2 separate regions of the Homo sapiens genome follow, and region 1 is linked to region 2. A link means that fine-mapping ties the variant in region 2 to the plasma level of a protein whose gene starts in the linked region. Region 2 holds a variant in brackets. A gene starts in the other region. All regions are shown on their forward strands.

Region 1 (11,007 bases), not on the chromosome of region 2:
ATACAAAAATTAGGTGGGCATGGTGGCACATGCCTGTAATCCCAGCTACAGGAGGCTGAGGCAGGAGAATCACTTGAACCTGGGAGGTGGAGGTTGCAGTGAGCAGAGACCGTGCCATTGCACTCTAGCCTGGGCAATAGAGCCAGACTTTGTCTCGAAAAAAAAAAAAAAAAGCCTGGGCACAGTGGCTCATGCTTGTAATCCCCAGCACTTTGGGAGGCCGAGGTGGGTGGATCATGAGGTCAGGAGTTTGAGACCAGCCTGACCGACATGGTGAAACCCCATCTCTACTAAAAATACAAAAATTAGCCAGGCGTGGTGACACGTGTCTATTAATCCCAGCTACTCAGGAGGCTGAGGCAGGAGAATCACTTCGACCTGGGAGGCGAAGGTTGCAGTGAGCCGAGATCGCACCACTGCACTCCAGCCTGGCAACAGAACGAGACTCCATCTCAAAAATAAATAAATAAATAAATAAATAAATAAATAAATAAATAAATAAACGTTATGCTCTTACAAAGTCTGCAACATCTCTCTCTTGCCCATCCCATTTCAAGCCGTACTGTTTTTTTCTCATGCTTCTTTCTGTGCAGGTCCAGTAAAAAATATGTTCTTAACCCTATCTTATATTCATTTATCTTGTTTGTTTATAAGTTTACATACGTATATATCTTGATTTCCCCCTACAATAACATACAGTCTAGTGAAGGAATTTCATTGTATTCACGCTATATACCCAGCACCTAGAAAAGTGGCCTGCTCATAGTAGGTGTTCAGTAAGCATTTGTTGACTTACTAGGTAACAGCATCTAATTCTATTAATCCTGAAATATCACAGGTCTTTTGGTTTTTCCATAGTTTTCTGATGGCTGTAACTGTAAGTAAACCATTTGGGTCAAATTAAATATAAGGTAAAACCTAACCCTTTGGAGACATTTAGACATCTTTTGCTAAAAACGGTCTCTTTTGTTCACTGGCAGGCACATAGAGCAAGATCTGACTTTTCACTTATCCTCACTTAATTCTTTTTTTTTTTTTTTCTTTTTTTGAGATGGAGTCTTGCTCTGTCGCCCAGGCTGGAGTGCAGTGGCGCGATCTTGGCTCACTGCAAGCTCCGCCTCCTGGGTTCATGCCATTCTCCTGCCTCAGCCTCCTGAGTAGCTGGCACTACAGGCGCCCGCCACCGCGCCCGGCTAATTTTTTTTGTATTTTTTTTTTAGTAGAGACAGGGTTTCACCATGGTCTCGATCTCCTGACCTCGTGATCCGTCCGCCTCGGCCTCCCAAAGTGAGCCACCACGCCCGGCCTTAATTCTTTATTCATGTATTTCATCATTCTGATTTTGAGACTAAACCTAGTCAAACTCTTCTATTTTCTCTGAATTTATGTCTTTAAGTTCTTGCATGTCTTCTTTCCTCTCAGATAATTAAATAACCATCTTGTATTAGTCCGTTTTTGCATTGCTATAAAGGAATACCTGAGACTTGGTATTTATAAAGAAAAGACATTTTACTGGCTCACAGTTCTGCAGACTGTACAGTAAGTATGGTGCCAGCATCTGCTCACCTTCTGGTGAGGCCTCAGGAAGCTTTCAGTCATAGTGGAAGGCAAAGCGGGAGCTGGCATATCACATGGCAAGAGAGGGTGCAAGAGAGAGTGAGGGGGAGGGGCTGATCTCACCCCAACTCAGAGCAAGAACTCACTTATTCCTTCGAGGAGGGTGCCAAGCCATTCATGAGGGATCCATCTGCATCACTCAAAACCTCCTGCCATGCCCCACCTCCAACAGTGGGGATTTCAAATTTCAAGTGATAGTTGTCCCTTCCAAATTTCAAATTTTCAACATGAGACTTGGAAGGGACAACTATCCCAACCATATCACATCTTTAAGCCCTTTTGTCTCTTGCCCTTTGTTATAAAAAGCAAAGCAAAGTTTAACTTTAGTAATAATTCTGCCTCTTGGGGTTACATTGAAAACTGTGAGATGTATTTACAACTAGAAAGAAACTGAAGACTGTATCATCAACACATTTTTACTTGACATAGGAAGTCATCGTATTCAGTAACTTCCTCACAGATGTTTCATTTCTGTTTCTAATCATAATATTAGATAATAGAGCACATTTTGACACCCAAATAGTAAACAAGAGAGTTGGGAAATTTCTCAGGTGTCACAAAAATATAAAACTTGGCAAAGGGAGTAGCAATTAAATAATAGTTTACTTTGTTTATTTTTCCATTGTATCACTGTATAAACATTTATTTTTATTTTTATTTTTTGAGACAGGGTCTCTCTGTCGCCCAGGCTGGATTGCAGTGGTACGATTATGGCTCACTGCAGCCTCAACTTCCTGGGCTCAAGCGATCCTCCTGCCTCAACCTCCTGAGTAGCTGGGACCACAGGCACATGCCACCATGCCAAGTTATATTTTTTATTTTTTATGGAGACAGGGTCTCATTCTGTTGCCCAGGCTGGTCTTGAACTCCTGTCCTCAAGCGATCCTCCCACCTGAGCCTCCCAAAGTGCTCACAGGTGTGAGCCACTGCCTGGCCATATGAACAATTTTTCCTGTCATGTTGGGAAGAATCTCACATGAAGATTAAAACCCCACAGTAATACAATTATAGCATCATAGAAAGAATAATAGTTATGTTCCCAATAGAGACTTTTTTAAAACAAAGGAGCAGATCAACTAGATGGTACCCACCATCAGCACACCCATCAAAGTGGAGTTATTGTTATAGAATGAATTGCGTCCTCCCCAAGTTCATATATGGAAGTCCCAAGCTCCAATTTGTGGTATTTGAAGATAGGGGCTTTGGGAGGAAATCAGGTTTAGATGAGGTTATGAGGGGGGGCTCTCATGGTGAGATGAATGCTCTTATAAGAAGAAACCGTGACGAGCTAGCACTCCCTCCATCATGTGAGGACACAGCAAGAGGGCATCAGCTGTAAGCCAGGAAGAGGGACCTCACCATACCCAACCATCCTGACATCCTCATGTCAGACTTCCAGCCTCCAGAACCATCAGAAAATAAATATCTGTTTTTTAACTCACTCAGTCTATGCTTTTTTTTTTTTTTTTTTTTTTTTTTGAGACAGAGTCTCACTCTGTCACCCAGGCTGGAGTGCAGTGGCGTGATCTCGGCTCACTGCAACCTCTGCCTCCTGGGTTCAACTGAGTCTCCTGCCTCAGCCTCCCAAGTAGCTGGGATTACAGGCGCGAGTCACTGCACCCAGCTAATTTTTGTATTTTTAGTAGAGACAGGGTTTCACTATATGGTCCAAGCTGGTCTTGAACTCCTGACCTCAGGTGATCTGCCTGCCTTGGCCTCCCGAAGTGCTGGGATTACAGGCATGAGCTACCACGCCTGGCCCAGTCTATGGTATTTTGTTATGGCAGCCCAAGCTGACCAAGACAGTTATGATCACATTTGAAAAATGCAACTAAAACCAGGCAAAGAAACCTGGAAGTACACACAATTATCCAGAATAATTAATAATAGTAATAACTCATTTTATTAGAAACATAGCCTTCTCAGTTAGGGTTGCCATTTTATGTCAAGAAAGGGGAACGTGGCCGGGCGCGGTGGCTCACACCTGTAATCCCAGCACTTTGGGAGGCCAAGGTGGGCGGATCACGAGGTCAGGAGATCGAAACCACCCTGGCTAACACAGTGAAAACCCGTCTCTACTAAAAATACAAAAAATTAGCCAGGCATGGTGGCGGGCACCTGTAGTCCCAGCTACTCGGGAGGCTGAGGCAGGCGAATGGCATGAACCCGGGAGGTGAGCTTGCAGTGAGCCGAGATCACGCCACTGCACTCCATCCTGGGCGACAGAGCGAGATTCCGTCTCAAAAAAAAAAAAAAAAAAAAGAAAAAAAAAGAAAGAGGAACGTGTTTCTTCAGGAAATTGATAAAATGTGATTGGGAAAAGGACCAAGAGATGACTGCACTCCAGCCAAGAACTTACCCACAGAACTCACAGTGAAACAGACACTGAGGAGCAAGATGGATACGACTGCCATGGACCAGACCTTCAACTGGAACCACCAGAGTCCTTTCTCTGTCAGATCAGCATGACAAATGCACAGTCATAATCCCCACTGCCAAAGAGCCAGGAAACCAGAGTCCCAAAAATCTTAGAATAATAAAGTCAGGCTATGATCAAAACTAATTAAAACAGAAAAAATGTGAAAGCAAAAAGAGATTATAGAAATTATCTCAGAACAAATGACCAGATAGTACCCTGGAACCCAAGACAAATCCAGGCAAAACTCTCAGAGTAAACTGTACTTTCCAATTCCTTACTCTCTTTTCCCTTGAATTGCACAGCCTTGGCCTCAAACTTCCAGGCTTAAGTGGTCCTCCTGCCTCAACCTCTGAGTAGCTGGGACTTTAGGCATTTGCCTGCATGCCTGGCCAAATTCATATTCCTTTAAGGCCTTCTAGGCCCGAGTTGTTTTTCTTTTTTTCTTTTTTTTGAGATGGAGTTTCACTCCTGTTGCCCAGGCTGGAGTGCAATGGCACGATCTCGGCTCACTGCAACCTCCGCCTCCCAGGTTCAAGTGATTCTCCTGCCTCAGCCTCCCAAGTAGCTGGGATTACAGGCATGTGCCACCACGCCTGGCTAATTTTCTATTTTTAGTAGAGACAGGGTTTCTCCATGTTGGTCAGGCTGGTCTCGAACTCCTGACCTCAGGTGCTCTGCCCACCTCGGCCTCCCAAAGTGCTGGATTACAGGCGTGAGCCACCGCGCCCGCCCGGCCTTTCTTTTTTTCTTTCATCTTTCCCTGATCCAAGTATCTTGGGTCCATACCTGTTTCCATACTGAAATTACTATTATTTATGAAAAGCTGTCTACTTCTTCTTCCAAAGTCATCCCTATCACCTCAATGCCTGTTTCCCACTCCATCCTGCTCCTACTACCTTCCCTAGAACTGAGAAGATGAGTGCTTACCTCGGTCTTGAGGCTCTTCTTCAGGCACCATTGTGTGTGCGCACACCCTTTGGACTTCCTCTATCAGGTGGGTGCAGAAGCTCTTGTATCACTTTCTCCAAAGATGTTACTTTCGGGGTGTGGTTCTTTCAAACAAGCCAAGCCCTTAGATCCTTCTTCGCCTACTCTTGCAAAGGAAGAGATGTGACTTAGGAGACTCTGCAGTGAGCTAAAGCTTTCAATTTAAAACATACATCATGTTCAGAAATAAGGAAACACAAACAAGGAAATCGAGAAATACATGAAAAACAGTTCATGGTTGCAGGTCTGATTGTCTTTTTTTTTTTTTTTTTTTTTTTTTTCTAGACAGGGTCTCACTCTGCCACCCAGGCTGGAGTATAGTGGTGCAATCTCAGCTCACTACTACCTCTGCCTCGCGGGTTCAAGCGATTCTCCTGCCTCAGCCTCCCGAGCAGCTGGGACTACAGGCATGTGCCACCATGCCCAGCTAATTTTTGTATTTTTAGTAGTGACAGGGTTTCATCATACTGGCCAGGCTTGTCTCGAACTCCTGACCTCCTGCCGTTGCACTCCAGCCTGGGCAACAAGAGCAAAACTCCATCTCCAAAAAAAAAAAAAAAAAAGCCTCTTTCATTTGTAAATTGCCCAGTCTCAGGTATGTCTTTATCAGCAGTATGAAAACGGACTAATACAGCCTCCCAAAGTCCTGGGGTTACCGTTGTGAGCCACCACGTGCCCGGCCACTGCTGAGTAATCTTAAATAGAGAAAATCCATTATAGCCTATGCTACTCAAATGGAGATGTTTGGTTGAAGGATGGTTACAACTACTGGTGAAATAGACACTGAGAAAGAAAGAACCTAGGTATTCCAGAATCTTCCCAGAGTTCAACTGAGATTTAATTGTAGAGTAGTGAGAAAAAAGTTTTGAGCTGGGCACGGTGGCTCATGCCTATAATCCCAGCACTTTGGGAAGCTGAGGTGGGCGGATCACGAGGTCAAGAGATCGAGACCATCCTGGCCAACATGGTGAAACCCCGTTTCTACTAAAAATACAAAAATTAGCCAGGTGTGGTGGTGCATGCCTGTAGTCCCAGCTACTCAGGAGGCTGAGGCAGGAAAATTGCTTGAACCCGGGAGGCGGAGCTTACAGTGAGCCGAGATCGTGCCACTGCACTCCACCCTGGGTGACAGAGCAAGACTCAGTCTCAAAAAAAAAAAAGTTTTGAGTTAGCAGCCATCCTTTGAGATATTTTAGGACCCAGACCAATGAGATCCTTTCTAAGCTGTATACTTGCTGAAACAACTTAAAGTCCTGTTTGGTCTCTTGTCTACCTCCCATTTACAGTTCCCTGAACCTCCCTCTGCCCCTGCCTCAGGGGTTCTCCCTGTTGCTTTCCTCTGTCTTGGATTAAAATGTAGAGTATGAGGGTATTCCTTTGAGTATACAATGCTGAGAAGAAAGGAGCAAAGGCAAAAATGAGAAAAATAATTTAAAATAGAACAAATTATAAAAGCAGAAAGAATGACAAATTATTTTCTCAGAAGAAAAGCAGAATTGCATGTAGGCCCAGCTCAGGTGACATCCCAGCAGAATGCTTTGAGTATGACCAGAGTATTGCAAAAGCTACAGCTGAAGAGGATAAATCTAGATAAGAATTGGTAGATGGTTTGCTCACTACTTCTTCCCCCGGTTGGTGAGGGAGGGAGTCCCAACCCAGGGTTATGGGTGGCTGGACACACAACACCCGACACTGGACAGATAAGACTGACAGCAGTTCAGCTGCATGTACTCACGGCCTGAGGCAGGAGGGCACCGCACACCATGCAGGGTCAGACAGAGGTTGCACTTGGGAGCAGGGTGACTGTGGGAGGCAGGATCTGCTGTAACAAGAGGGTGAGGTGGCCCCTTGGCTCTTGAGGGAGGATGGGATTGGCTTCTTTAAAGAATTTTGTGGCCAGGTGTAGTGGCTCGTGCCTATAATCTCAGCACTTTGGGAGGCTGAGGTGGGCGGATTGCTTCAGGCCAGGAGTTCAAGACTAGCCTGGCCAACATAGTGAAACCCCATCTCTACTAAAAATCCAAAAAATTAGCCAAGCATGGTGGCACACGTCTGTAATTTCGGCTACTCAGGAGGCTGAGGCACGAGAATCACTGGAATTTGGGAGGCAGGGATTGCAGTGAGCCGTAATCGTACCACTTCACTCCAGCCTGGGTGACAGAGTGAGATTCTGTGTCAACGAAAAAAAAAAGAGAAAAAAAAGATTTTGTGGGCCTTCAGGGAAGTGAAATCTATTAGCTTGAGGACCAGGTGGAGTGCAGCTGGCCCAGCTGAGATGGAAACTGGCTGAGTGAGAAACAGAAATATTTTTTTTTTTTGAGATGGAGTCTTTCTCTGGTCACCTAGGCTGGAGTGAGTGCAGTGGCTAAATCTTGGCTCACTGCAACCTCCACCTCCCGGGTTTAAGCAATTCTCCTGCCTCAGCATCCCGAGTAGCTGGGACTACAGGCATGCGCCACCACGACTGTCTAATTTTGTATTTTTAGTAGAGACAGGGTTTCTCCATGTTGGTCAGACTGGTCTTGAACTCCCAACCTCAGGTGATCCGCCCACCTCAGCCACCCAAAGTGCTGGGATTACAGGTGTGAGCCACAATGCCTGGCCATTTTTTGTTTTTGAGACAGGATATCAGTCTGTTGCCCAGACTGAAGTGCAGTGTCTCGACCTTCACTCACTGTAGCCTTGACCTCCTGGGATCAAGTGATCCTCCCACCTCAGCCTCCCGAGTAACTGGGACTATAGATACACGTCATTACACCTGGGGATCTTTTAAATTTTTTTTGTAGAGACAGGGTCTCGCTATGTTATTTCCCAGGCTGATCTCGAACACCTGGGCTCAGGTGATCCTCTTGCCTTGGTCTCCCAAAGTGCTAGGATTACAGATGTAAACCAGCATGCCTGGCCGGTGATGCTCTTTTAACATGAGTACCCAGTGTTTGGAATCAGGACAGGGCATCAGTTAGGTTTTGCTGTATAATCAATTAACTTAAAACTTAAAATACACAGCTATTCAATTAGTTCATAGTTCCCGAGAGTCAGCAATTTGGGCTGAACACCACTGGGTGATTCTGGTTTGGATTGGATCGGATCGGTTCCATCTCAGCTGAGCTCACTCTGCAATAAGCTGGTGGGCTGGGTGGGGCTGGCTGATTCACGTCTCTCTTTGGTCATCCTCTAGCGGATTAGCCTGGATTTACGTACATTGTGGCAGGAGGATTCCAGTAGTAGCAAGAAAACAAACCCTATTGTGTACATGCTTTTAAAAACCTGTGTGCCAGGAAATCACCAAATCACTCCAGCTATAACATTAAAAGACAACCACTCTCTTCCACTTAAAACTTATTGGCTGGCCACAATGCCTCACACCTGTAATCCCAGCACTTTGTGGGGCAAAGGCAGGAGGATTACTTGAGGCCTGGGCAACATAGTGAGACCTTCTCTCTACCAAAAAAAAAAAAACAAACAAACAAACAAACAAAAATTAGCCAGGTATGGTAGCATGTACCTGTAGTCCCAACTACTTGAGGGGCTGAGGTGGGAGAATCACCTGAGCCTTAGAGATCAGGGCTGCAGTGAGCTATAATCAAGCCACGGTGCTCCAGCCTGAGTGACAAAGACCCTACCTCTAAGATAAAATAAAAACCAAGAAGAAAAAGAAACCTCCCCAATATGTCAGTATTTACGCCTTCAGAAAAAGATTTCTATGTGAATAATGTTATATATTTGCAACATATTATCAAGCAAAGAAACCAGTAAGAGGCCAGGCACAGTGGCTCACACCTGTAATCCCAGCACTTTGGAAGTGTGTGGCAGGTGGATCACCTGAAGTCAGGAGCTTAAGACCAGGCTGCCCAACATGATGAAACCCCATCTCTGCTAAAAATACAAAAATTAGCTTAGTGTGGTGGCACTAGCCTGTAATCCTAGCTACTCAGGAGGCTGAAGCAGGAGAATCACTTGAACCCAAAGGCAGAGATTGCAATGAGCCGAGATCGTGTGTCCAGAATTGATAGGTTCTTGGTCTCACTGACTTCAAGAATGAAACCACGTACCCTCGCGGTGTTACAGCTTTTAAGATGGCACGTCTAGAGTTACTCGTTTCTCTCGGCGAGCTTGTGGTCTTGCTAGCTTCAGGAGTGAAGCTACAGACTTCCGCGGTATCACAGCTCATAAAAGAACCGTGGACCCAAACAGCGAAAGAACAAAGCTTGCACAGCACAGAAAGCAACTCGCAACCGGTTGCAACTGCTAGCTCGGGCAGCCTGCTTTTATTCTCTTATCTGGCCCCACCCACGTCCTGCTGATTGGTAGAGCCGAGTGGTCTGTTTTGACAGTGCGCTGATTGGTGCGTTTACAAACCTTGAGCTAGACATAAAGGTTCTCCACGTCCCCGTCAGATCAGTTAGATACAGAGTATCCACATAAAGGTTCTCCAAGGCCCCACCAGAGCAGCTAGATACAGAGTGTCGATTGGTGCATTCACAAACTGAGCTAGACACAGGGTGTTGATTGGTGTGTTTACAAACCTTGAGCTAGATACAGAGTGCCTATTGGTGTATTTACAATCCCTGAGCTAGACATAAAGGTTCTCCACGGCCCCACCAGACTCAGGAGCCCAGCTGGCTTCACCCAGTGGATCACTGCACTGGGGCTGCAGGTGGAGCTGCCTGCCAGTCCGCGCCCTTGCGCCCGCACTCCTCAGCCCTTGGGTGGTCGATGGGACTGGGCGCCTTGGAGCAGGGGGTGGCGCTCATCGGGGAGGCTCGGCCGCACAGGAGCCCATGGCGGGGGAGAGGTGGGAGGCTCAGGCTTGGCGGGCTGCAGGTCCCGAGCCCTGCCCCGCGAGAAGGCAGCTAAGGCCCGGTGAGAAATCAAGTGCAGCGCCGGTGGGCTGGCACTGCTGGGGGACCCAGTACACCCTCTGCAGCCGCTGGCCCGGGTGCTAAGCCCCTCATTGCCCGGGGCCGGCAGGGCCGGCCGGCTGCTCCGAGTGCGGGGCCCGCCAAGCCCACGCCCACCCGGAACTCCAGCTGGCCCGCAAGCGCCGCGCGCAGCCCCGCCTCTCCCTCCACACCTCCCTGCAAGCTGAGGGAGCCGGCTCCGGCCTTGGCCAACCCAGAAAGGGGCTCCCACAGTGCAGCGGTGGGCTGAAGGGCTCCTGAAGTGCCGCCAAAGTGGGAGCCTAGGCAGAGGAGGCGCTGAGAGCGAGCGAGGGCTGTGAGGACTGCCAGCACGCTGTCACCTCTCAATTGCGCCACTGCACTCCTGGGTGACAGAGGGAGACTCTGTCTCAAAAGAAAGAAAGAAACCAATGAGAAAAGCAGTCCTTAGGGTTTAAGATTCTATTTTATAGCTAGCCAGGTGGAGATATTGGGCTTGTGTAAGAGGAAGTTAGTGGTCAGACCACGCAGGGTGAAGTGAGAGTTTAACTTATCCAATAGCAGAAAGAGCCATTAAAGGCACTAAAGCAATGTGGTGAAAGGATCAGATTATATTTTTTTATTTATTTATTTTTTGAGACAGAGTCGACAGAGGAAGACTCCGTCTCAAAAAAATAATAATAAAAAAAAAGTCCAACTTTGAATGTATTGTTTGCAGAGGATGAAGTGGCAAAAGAGACAAAGAAGAATATCCAGAGAAATAGGAAAAGTGAGTGTCTTAGTCCATTCAGGCTATTATTATTTTTTTTCTGAGATGGAGTCTCGTTCTGTCACCCAGGCTGCAGTGCAGTGGCACGATCTTGGCTCACTGCAACCTCCACCTACCGGCTTCAAGTGATTCTTCCGCCTCAGCCTCCCCAGTATCTGGGACTACAGGCGCATGCCTCCACGCCCAGCTAATTTTTGTATCTCTAGTAGAGATGAGGTTTCACCATGTTGGCCAGGCTTGGTCTCGAACTCCTGACCTCAGGTGATCCACCCACTTTGGCCTCCCACAGTGCTGGGATTACAGGCATGAGCCACCAGGCCCGGCCCATTCAGGCT
Region 2 (10,950 bases):
GGGCCCCACGGGCAGCTGCAGGTGGGAACAGCCTCAGGCAGCCGCCGCCAGGACCTGCTCAGGGAATGTGGTCTCCAGAGATGGGGACACCCCTCGGTCCCGGGTTCTGTGTGTGAGTGTCAGGGGTGCAGTCAGACCTTGGACCTGACGGCCTCAGTGAGAGCCCCGCGAGACGGGAGACTGTGAGCTCCTGAAGGTTCCGACGGCTGCTGGGAGTGTGGCCACGAGGGCCACTGGGAATCGGGGCCACCAGCCTGCAGCTGCAGCCCCCAGCGTCCGGGGATCCTTGTCCTGGGACTTCGCAGGCTCGGGTGGGGGGTATCAGCAATAGCTGGCGTCCTGCTGGACTGGACCCCTCCCCAGAGCCCGAAGCCCCCAGAAGGGCAGGCCCAGGTTCCCCGTAAACCCCCACTGCCCTGGCTGGAATCGTTCCTCGGACAGGGGCCCAGGGTTGGGTCCATTTCCTCCTCACCGGGGTCTTGGGCCAGTGCCCTCCCCTCTGGCCTCAGTTTCCTCATCCAACCTGCTGTGAGGTGTCACACCCGGAGGGCATCCCAGGAGGAGGAGGGCTCTCTTTCTAGGACCCCCCCATCACTTCCCGGCTGCGGCCCTCCCACCCCCAGGAGAACACAGCCCACCCTCCTAGACGGGGCTGAGCAGCCCGGCCTCCAGCATCTGCCTCTGGGTGGGGCTGGGGCACCTGGCTGGCACCTGCCAAACCCTCACCAGCCCACCTGCCCCAGCTGTGCAGGACCTGCCTGTGGGGTGGCCCTGTTGATATCTGAGGTGAGTCAACACGGCCATCCGTGCCGGCACTGTCAACTAAGCTGGGCAGGCCCCGCGAAGCTCTAAGGAGTCACAGCCCCGGCACCGGCTGCCGCTCTCTGCCCCCACCCCACCACCTTCCCCTCGAGCCTCTTACCTGGGCCGCCCTTCCTGGGACCCCGGGGTGCGGAGCAGCCGGCAGATGCCAGGAGGCCGCTCTCCAGCACAGGGTGCGTCTGGGACATGGAGCCACAGGTGGATCCCGAGGCTGAACTGGCTGCCCTGTCCCTCAGTCTTGAAGCCGGCATGAGGAGGGCCACCCTCAGGGGCCAACCTGGAGCCCAGGACAGGCCTCTACCAGGACTGCCTTTCCCGACCTCCTGCAGCCTTGAGGGAAAGAGGAGGGGCTGGGCCAGCTGGGGCGTCCTGGAGTTGGGCCTCTGTCCCTGGAAAGCCGAGGCCCTCCCGGCCACCAACTGGGTGTCCTCTGCCCTGGGGAGGGGGTGGGAGCCCTGGGGCTCATGTGACGCGGGGCGGGCCTGGGGCTGCAGGCTGGGGAAGGTCTCCCTGCAGCCTGCGGGTGAGGCAGCCAGCTGTGTCCCCGTGATAATGCCGGGGCCGGAGGCCTGCAGCTGCGCCCGCCACTTCCCTGACAGGAACCATCTGGGGCCCTGCCCTGCGCGGCCTTCCCTCGGGCCATTCCGGTTTGACCTTCCAACAACTTCCTCCTCCCAGGCAGCTCTGGTGACGTCCCACCCACCCTGAGCCCTACAGCGTGGCCACTGGGCATGTGTTTCCTCGGCCCCAGGGCAGGTGTGCAGGCCTGAGGGCAGCTCCATCCTGGCCCAGAGCCCTTGGCCTGTCCCGCCCACCCATCTTCCCCCCAGGGCTTGGCCCTTCCTTCAGCCTGGGGTATCTGGGGGTGTCCTCCCTCTCCGCTAGCCCTCAGTCAGCCGAGCTTTCCCCAGCACCCCTTTTAGTTTGCCCCCGCTCCAGGGGCCACCCTGCCCGTGTTCCTGTGTCTGCTGACTGTGCCCTTGAGCAAGGCGGGGCCTCTGACCAGCCTCTCCTCAGCCCCTGCTCCGGGGTTCTTGGGCACCTGACCTGTCCTCAAAGTACCTCCCGCCTGCTGGGAAGGAAACCCTCTCTCTCTGCTTGGCCTCGTGCACAGGGCTCCTGGCCCTCTGTGGAGACAGCAGGGCTCCCCCACTCTCCGGGGGTGCCTCAGAAAGACCCTCACCCCACGCCCCAGCGGCCGCCTCCGGTGAGCAGCCTGGAGTTTGCGGGGGTCGGGGGTAGGTGGCTTCTCCAGTCTGGGAAATTCCAGAAGCCACCTCAGAGCACTCTTGGGACTACTTAGACCCTAGGGAGAGTCCTAGGACCCCTTTCTAGCGGCCGTTGGGCTGAGAGAGTGAGGCACATCCCAGATGCTGGGAAAAAAAGCCACTTTCTAAAGCTCCCTGACAACTGTCAGAGGGCAGGAGCTTCCTGGGAGGGGACAGTGACCCTTCGGCCCTGCAGCCCTGGTTCGGTGGCTTTTCTGATGCCATGGCTGGAGGTTTCCCGGCCTCAGACAGGCCAGAGGTGTGGAGCCCGCAGACCCAGGGCCGGCTCACGGGCATCTGTGCTATTTTGATTTGATTTGATTTGAGTTTTAGGTCACGTTTGCACGCAGTTAATAATTCAAGCCGTGCAGGAGTAAAAGCCGACTCCTTCCCCGCAGGGTCTCCAGGTGTCCCGGGTCTCCCTGTCCCAATAGTCGAGTGTCTTTCTCGAGTTGGTGACAACAAGCTGCATGCCAGCGTGTGTGTCCAGCTTACAGTGGGGATGTGTTTGTTCCTGCTGGGGAACTTCCCAGACGCCAGGCCCACCCGGGGCCTCCCCTGCCCTGGGTGGTCGGCCGTTCTGCCCCCAGGACTGAGGCTGGAGGGGACATTCCTGCCAGCCCGGGGCCCATCCCCTGGTGCCATCATTCGGTCCCCACGTCCCCTGCTGTTCCCTGTGCTCTGGCTCAGGGTGGGATTCACAGTGAGGGTCCTGGGGGCCCTGACCCTCCTGGTTTCCTCATTTGTGCAGGGTGCACGATCCTAACGGCGTCAGCTCCTACAGCGTTTCCGGGAGTGGAGACAGCAGAGGCTCTGAGCCGCCACATGGGCCGGGGCCACCGTGAGCATGTGGCTGGGGTTGGTCTGTGTCAGTGCCTATTCCCCAGCTGTGTGCAGTGAGAGTCTCAGAGTCGGGGAACTGAGGGTCTCAGGGGGCACAGCCCCCACTCCGTGAGGCAGCAGGACAGCACCCTGGGTGAGGGTGGTGGCTCCCCCCACC[C/T]GGGGTAGGAGACAGGCAGCCCTGCCCCCAGCCCTGAGGCAGATGTTCGAGGCCTGCACCTGCGCCCCCCACAGATGGGACACTTCCACTTTCGCAATGAGGCCCTGAGCTCCCCGCCTGGCCCCGTCTTGCCTGGTGTCTAATCAGGGGGTCTGACGGAGGTGGGGTTGGAAAGAGAAGAGAAGAAAGTTGCCCACAAGTTGGGGGCAGGAGCTGCCCCCCAACTTTGGCGGCCACCTGGGGGTGTGGGCACCACTCCCCACCTCCCCACTACCGGCCTCCTCTCCCCCAGGCCGGGCAGTTGGTGCTTGTGGGGAAGCAGACGTTGGCTGTGGCTTTCAGAGCTGGGCGGCCAGGAGATAAGGGGCTGGGGAGGAAGTGGCTGCAGAGGTGGGGGCAGCAGGAGGGGCCTCGGCTTCTCCCAGGGACCTCTGCTGTCTGCAGCCAGCACCCAGCCTCTCGGGGCAGGAGGGGCCTTTCCTTCCTTCCTAAAAGACCTATTAGGGCCTACTGGGGTTCTTTCGGTGTCCAAGACAGCCCCTGGTCCTGCTCTCTGGGAACTATAGGAGACACGTTCCATCAACATGGCCCAGCATGTGGGGCCCATAGGGCAGTTGGGGAAACTGTCCCTGGGTGGGCAGAGGGGCCCTAAGGCAGGCTTTGGTGAATCTGTAGGATGGCCAGAGAACTGGAGGAGGGTGAGGGGGCAGTGGGGGAGATGACGCCATGTGGGGGTGGGTGAGGAGGCCTTCCTTCAGGCAGGGTGTCTTATGTTTGCCTTCTCTTCTAGCATGTAGGAACCCCCCCACCCCCAACACACACACCCTTCACTGCTGGATGAATAGATGAATGAATAGATTGATGAATGAATGGGTGGGTGGGTGAGTGGATGGGTGGGTAGATGATGGGTGGATGGGTGGGTGGGTGGATGAGTGAATGGGTGGATGGATGGGTGGATAGATGGGTGAGTGGGTGGATAGATGGGTGAGTGAGTGAGTGGGTGGATGGGTGGGTGGATGGATAGATGTGTGGATGGGTGGGTGGATGGATAGATGGGTGAATGGGCGGAAAGATGGGTGAATGGGTGGATGGATGAATGGATAAATGGGTAAATGGGTGGGTGGATGGAGAGATGGGTGAATGGGTGGGTAGGTAGATGGATGGGTGTGTGGGTGAATGAATGGTGGATGGGTGTGTGGGTGGGTGGGTGGATAGATGGGTGAATGTGTGGATGGGTGGATAGACGGGTGAATGGGTGGATGAGTGGATAGATGAGTGAATGGGTGGATGGATGGATGGATGGATAAATGGGTGAATGGGTGGTGGATGGATAGATGGGTGGATGGGTGGGTAGATGGGTGAATGGGTGGATGGGTGGATAGATGGGTGAATAGGTGGAAGGATGGATGGATAAATGGGTGAATGGGTAGGTGGATGGATAGATGGGTGGATGGGTGGATGGATGGAGAGATGGGTGAATGGGTGAGTAGGCGAATGGATAGGTGGGTGGGTGAATGTGTGGATGGATGGGTGGATGGAGAGATGGGTGAATGGGTGGGTAGGTGGATGGATGGGTGTGTGGGTGAATGAATGGTGGATGGGTGTGTGGGTGGGTGGGTGGATAGATGGGTGAATGTGTGGATGGGTGGATAGACGGGTGAATGGGTGGATGAGTGGATAGATGAGTGAATGGGTGGATGGATGGATGGATGGATGGATGGATAAATGGGTGAATGGGTGGTGGATGGAGAGATGGGTGAATGGGTGAGTAGGTGAATGGATCGGTGGGTGGGTGAATGTGTGGATGGATGGGTGGATGAATGGGTGCGTGGATGGGTGGATGGATGAGTGGATCAGTGAATGGGTGGGTAGGGATGGATGGGTGGATAGACAGGTGAATGAGTGGATGGATGGATACATGGGTGGATGGGTGGATAGGTGGATGGATGGGTGGATGGGTGGGTGGATGGGTGAATGGGTGGATGGGTGGATGGATGGGTGGATGGATGGGTGGATAGATGGGTGGATGGGTGAATGGATGGATGGATGGATGGGTGAATAGATGGGTGCATGGGTGAATGGGTGGGTAGGTGGATAGATGGGTGGGTGGGTCAATGTGTGGATGGATGGGTAGAGGGGTGGGTGGATGGGTGGATGGGTGGGTGGGTGGGTGGATGGGTGGATGGGTGGGTGGGTGGATAGGTGGATCAATGAATAAGTGGTAATATGGTTTTATGTAAGTCTCATGCCAGCCCACTTTACAGAGGAGGGAGGAGGCCCACAAGGGTGCCATCCCCAGTCACAAAGCCTGGAGAGAGGAATGTAAGTCGCGAAGCCGCTCCAGAGGATGCTGAACAGTGTCATGTACGGAGGAGCCTTGCCCCGGCTTTCTGGTCCTGAATAAGGTGTGGACAGTTGGGGTGAGCCACAGAGGGAGTGGGGGCCGGGGGTGGAGGCAGGAAAAAACCTGCCCCGGGTGTTCAAGGCAGTGCAGGTGAAGCGGCTCATAGCTGGATGCTCAGCCACTCCCCAGCTCAGGGCACGGCTGAGCAAACCCAGAACCACGGAGAAGGTGCCATGGCCGGAGGGCTGGGGTGATTTGGGGAAACCTGGTACAAAGTGGTGCAGGATTCCAGGGCTCTGAGACTGCAGTTACTGGGCGCTCCTGCCACCCCCAGAAAGAGCAGGTCTACCTGGGGAGTCCGAGCCGAGGCGCAGGCCGGAGACACCCCAATGAGAGCACGGAACTGGAATCGGGGTCTTCACCTTCCCGGTGTGTGGACTCCTTGGGCATCTAGTAAGCAAATAAGTTCACAGAATTATGAAGGAAACCCATTTTACCAAAATACAGCTACCACCCCGTTAGAACATTCTGGTGTAGTGAGCACTGTGCTTTTCATTAAGCCATGATTTAAAGTGGTGAGGCGTGGGAACCGCATTAGGAGACGTGGTGGTGAGTGGAAGGCGAGGGGGGTCTTTTGTGGAGCCCTGGACCCTCCCAAGGCGTGGCTGCTTGGGGCCCACCAAAGTGGCCCTGGGGCAGCTCTATCGGTGTCAACGGCACAGGCGCGGCTGACACCCTGGGGAGGTGCCCACGTTCTTGGTTACAGGAAAGGCTAAATTTTGGTTAGAGACACGACACAATGCCAGATGAAACTCATCCAAGTCCACGGATCCCCTGAATTCCAAGGAAAGAACCGCGGTTCCAGCTTCCCTCGAAGGTGTCCCCCGGTCCCGCTCACCACCTCAGCTTCCAGGAGTCTCCGGTGGGACAGCCGGAACCCCACTGAGGGTCTCGAAGTCACAGGCCCCTGGTTCACACTCAGCATTTCCTGTCTGTGCTGGGTACGCTTGGGCAAATGTCTTGACCCGTTTCCCCAACTGTAAAGTAAGAAGGTAACAGAGTCAGCTGAATGGGGGTGTGGTGAGGATTTAATAAAACCGTCCACGTTTGGACTCTCCTATGGTGCCCGTGAAGGTGGGCAAGCACGGACGGGCAGCTGTGACCCCTGCGAGATCCCTGAGCCGTGAAGGGGCCAGCCCAGGGGGACAGTGGAATCCCCACACCGCCTTCTGGCCATGGCCGCCTCCGGGGCAGGCGCGTTGCTGCTAGAAAGCTCTTCCTAAATTGAGCTCAGGTCGGCATCCCTGCAGATGCGGCCCCTCTCCGGAAGAGTGCTTTGGAAGGGAGAAAGGGCTCTCCCAGCCCCACCGCCGCCCCCTGGAGTCAGCCACAGCCTCCTCCCCCACAGCCTCCTCCCCCACAGCCCTCCCGCCCCCATGGCAAGAGACCTGCTTCAATTGTGATGTGGCTGCCCCGCCCCTCCTCTTAAACCTTCAGTGGCTGCCCACCTCCCTCAAGATCAAGGCCAGACCCTGAAGGTGGCTGGGGGCCCCTCCACACTCTGCCCCAACCCTACATCAGAGCCGCTTCTCCTGAGGGTGTTTCCTCATCTCTGGGCCTTCCCCAGCCCTCCCATCGAAACTTGCCTCACGTGGCGGGCTCCTACCCAGCCCTCAGAGCCCATAGGAAGTGCCCTGTCCTGTCCTGGGCTCCACACCCCCTGCACACCTTCCTGGGTTCCACACCCCCTTCACACCTTCCTGGGCTCCATGCCCCCTGCACGCCTCCATCACAGCATTAGCACCTTGGGTTGCAGTTGCTGTGGGCTGGTTTCCTTGGACCCACAGGAAAGCAGCCCTGGGCGGGAACCTTGCCTGTCTCCAAGGGCTGTGTTCCCGGCACAAGGCGCAGGGCTCCATGGGTGATGACTGGCTGGCGGAGTTTGGCACACCCACCTCTGGGTCCCCCACACGACACCTGGAACTTCTCTAGGCTGAATTCCACCTCTCTCGCCCTCAGGACTCCCCTGGGGCTCTGCCCCACACACATCCCAGGGAACACAGAGGAAATGGCCGGTCTCCCCAGCTGCTTCCGAAGAGCAGGATGGGCTGAGACTCCAGGCCCGGCCGCCCAGCGCAGCCTTGGGACCCTGGGGCAGCCCCCAAGGCCTAGGGGGCTCAGTGGCCTTTGCCCGGACAGGAGGGCCTTCCCCAGCTCATCAGCCACCCCAGGCGGGTAGTGGGTGTGGGACAGAGAGCTGACGGCAGTCAGAGGCCACAGCCCCACAGGACCCGCTGTTCCCTTGGCTGGCATCCTCCTCCCCTCCTGAAGCGCATGGGGCTGAGCCCAGCAGGGTGGAGTCTGAACAGAGACAGGAATTTGAGCATCAGGGCAGCAACAGCGTCGCCCCCGCTTCCTGAGCACCCTGGACTTGCGGGGGACGCTGGTGACCTGGTGGCATATATTCGGTGTCTGACAGGACTGGAGAGGTTAAGCAATTTCCCAGGTCACCAGCGGTGGGATTTGGGACTCAGGCTGGGTCTAAGCCAGTCCTCTCCCTGAGGCAGAGAGCCTGCTGTGGCTACACCCACCCAGCTTCCAGGACACGGAGCCCTCTGCCCACCGTGGTCTCTGCTCCTCCCCAGCGCCCAGGAGGCATCAAGACCCGGCAAGGCTGCCCGTTCTGCAGAACAGGAAACCGAGGCTCCCAGAGGGGAAAGTCCCAGCCTCCCTGGGGGTCCCAGGGTCCTGGGCTGCTGCACCCCAGCTGCAAAGGGGGAAGCCCCGTCCGGAGGCCACTTTCCCTGTAAGGAGCCCAGGCGGGGTGAGGGCTGCGACGTGCCGGTGCCGCCCCGGTTTCCCTCTGACTCAGGCTGAGGCGGCTGCCCCTGTGCTGGTGCCATGTCTAGTCCGCAGGCCCCACACCGGTGACCTGCCCTCATCTCATCTCCTGTGAGTCCGCGAGTCCACGGCTCTGCCGACGGGGGGTGGTGTGTGTGCAGCAGAAGGAATGAACGAGGGAACCCCTGCCCTGTGCTCTTCCTCTCCTCCCCTCCGTCCTGCCTGGGTGTTCACAGCAGCTTAAGAGGGAAGAACGTGGCCCTGGCCTACCCACCAATGTTCTAGAACATTCTGGAACATTCTGTTCTCAGCCCGGAGCCTGGGAACTGGGTAAACCTGGGCCATCGAGCGGCATCCAACATGAGGAAAATACCAAGAGGCTGGTGTGTGGTTCTGTGTGTGTGGCGCGTGGCGCGTGGTGCGTGGGGAGAGGCAGCCGCCCGCCCTCCAGAGCCAGGGTGCCACCTCCTGCGTCATAGACACCTCCCCCAAGCAGTGCCAAGCTCCTGCCTCCCACCAGTGGCTACTTCGGGCTGCAGTGGGGCCTGGGGCCACGGAAGACCCAGCTAGGTCTGGCCAAGAGGCCCAAGGATATTCCAGGCACCCGGAAGGATCCGGAAGGATCTGGGAGTCTTGGGTTAAGAACCATGCAGCCTGACCTGCTCCAAACGTGGACTTCGTCCCTGAAGAGGCTGCAGGACCCTAACCATTCGCGTCCTGGGCGATTGTGAGTGTGATGGACGATCACAGCACTGTTATTGTATCTTAGAGCTGAACTGGAAGACAAACTGGCCTGTATCCAATAAGAAAAAAACTTTGTGTTTTGCTTCCATTATTTATTTTTTCTGAGGCAGGGTCTTGCTCTGTCACCCAGGCTGGAGTGCAGCAGTGCGATCTTGGCTCACCGCAGCCTCCACCCCCTGGGCTCAAGCGAATCTCCTGCATCAGCCTCTTGAATAGCTGGGACCAGAGGCGCCCGCCACCATGCCTGGTTAATTTTTTATGTTTTGTAGAGATGGGGCCTCACTATGTTGCCCAGGCTGGTCTCAAACTCGTGGCTGAAGCGATTCTCCTGTCTCAGCCTCCCAAAGTGCTGGGATGACAGGCATGAGCCACTGCACCCGGCCTCATGGCTTTTTAATAGTTAGGTTTCTATTGACCTTGTTTTCAGACACACACAAGCTTAGAGGATATAACACAGGCTTGTGGATCAAGCACTCTGCTTCACTGAACTTGAAACATTTTAAACATCAGATTCTTTTAAGGCGCCTTTGGGTGCCCTGGCCTAAAACACCCTTCCCACTCTGCCCGTGTTCAGTCCTGACTCCAGACACCGCGGAAAGTGAGAGGGGTCGGGCAGGGGAGTCCAGGGGTTCTCAGAGCGCAGTCCCTGACCCTGCGCCCATGTTCAGTCCCGACTCCAGACACCGAGGAAAGTGAGAGGGGTCTGGGAGGGGAGTCCGAGGGTTCTCAGAGCGCAGTCCCTGACCCTGGGAGCTTGTCAGAAATCCTCACCCACCCAGGATCTGTGCGTGGGGCACCTGGGGCTGTCCTGGGTCTGCTCCGATTGTCCCCGAGGGGATCTGGAGGGACGAGGTTGCCCCGGGGTCTGCTTGGGGACAGGGTGAGCCAGCACTGTGACTCTGTCATTGCAACGGTTGTCTCTCCCCATGGGTGGGTGGAGGGACTTCCCTGAGGCTCTGGGACCTCCCTGGCAGTTCCAGCCACCTGAGCTCGGAGCACATGTCTGTGGTGCTTGGCGTGGGGGTGGGTCCAGGGTCCAGCCCCTTCCTGGCTGTCGCCTGCAGGCCTGACCCGGCTAAGGGGGTCCAACCTGGCCTTATCCGTCTAAGGGGGTCCAACCTGGCCGGCCCGAGAGGGTAGGGCTTCTTGGGAGAAAGCTGAAGGTCATGGAGGAGAAATGGGGGCAGGGAAGACCGTCAGGCTGAAACCCCACATCGGGCAGCTCAGAGGTGGGGGCAGGGAAGACCACCAAGCTGAGTCCCCCCATCAGGCAGCTCAGGGGAGGGGGCTCCATGCTGGGCCCCTGAGCCGCCTCCTGCTGTCACAGCATGAGGTTTATCATTCAGCACCCAGGCAAGCTGGCCCTGCAGGCAGGGGTCCGGCCTCCAACCGCCTTCCGGCTGCCCCACCATGTCCAGGGACCTGCTTCAGCCCTCCAGTCGTGCTTCCTTTCTTCCCTCTGCTCACTCGGCTCCTCCTGGAAGTTCCTTCTCGCTAGCCCCCAGGGGGTTTGGATGCTGGACCCTGGGGAAGGGGCCTTGGGGTCTGTAGCAGGGCATCTGAGGGTCCTGGGACACCCAGAAACCCCAGGAAGGCTGTGGGTGACTCAGCAAACCCACAAGCCGGGGGGTCTCTCAGGCATGTGCTGCAGGGGGGGTATGATGTGGGGTCTGCTCTGAGTGAGGGTCTCGGCCCTTGTCTGCTCCTTGTCCCCCTGTCCCAGCCACAGCCCGCTCCACTCCCAACTCTGCCCACGGCTCACCCCGGGCCTCTCAGACCCTCGCCTCTGGGACCCCCTTGTGAAGATCCGCCTGCCCCCCTACAGCCCCACAGCCCCCATCCTGCTTTGCAGCCCCCTCCCTGCTTTGCTTGTCTTGAATAGCAGGTGGCACTCTCTGATGTGCTGAACGTTGTTTACTGCCTGTCTCTCC

Which allele goes with the higher level. Positions count from the first base shown, and alleles are read on the strand shown. Strength reflects both the effect of a copy and how common the allele is.
As copies of C replace T in region 2, the plasma level of the protein whose gene starts at base 5,021 in region 1 goes up (weak association).

The links. PIP is the chance, under the fine-mapping model, that this variant and not a neighbour inherited with it causes the effect. The UK Biobank Pharma Proteomics Project read protein levels with antibody pairs (Olink). The fine-mapping took linkage between variants from a reference panel, not from the people measured, so its PIPs are less certain.
Region 1: it holds the start of CLEC4C, and the variant in region 2 is fine-mapped to the plasma level of the CLEC4C protein (UK Biobank, PIP above 0.99).

What each region holds. Positions count from the first base shown.
Region 1 is chr12:7,742,355-7,753,361 of GRCh38, forward strand. CLEC4C (C-type lectin domain family 4 member C) reads right to left here and starts at 5,021. Exons shown (of 6, transcript NM_001371390.1): 1 at 4,964-5,021; 2 at 3,977-4,069. The coding sequence starts at 4,994. RefSeq lists enhancers at 6,797-6,876, 6,897-7,076, 7,257-7,336.
Region 2 is chr16:88,975,735-88,986,684 of GRCh38, forward strand. It overlaps CBFA2T3 (CBFA2/RUNX1 partner transcriptional co-repressor 3), which reads right to left and starts at 1,473. Exons shown (of 12, transcript NM_005187.6): 1 at 923-1,473. The coding sequence starts at 1,073. LOC124903756 (a long non-coding RNA gene) reads left to right here and starts at 5,329. Exons shown (of 2, transcript XR_007065183.1): 1 at 5,329-5,495; 2 at 6,222-6,552. RefSeq lists enhancers at 1-142, 1-4, 1,845-1,894, 7,725-8,225, 7,931-7,990 and a silencer at 6,438-6,640. The variant C/T (reference allele first, on the strand shown) is at 3,091.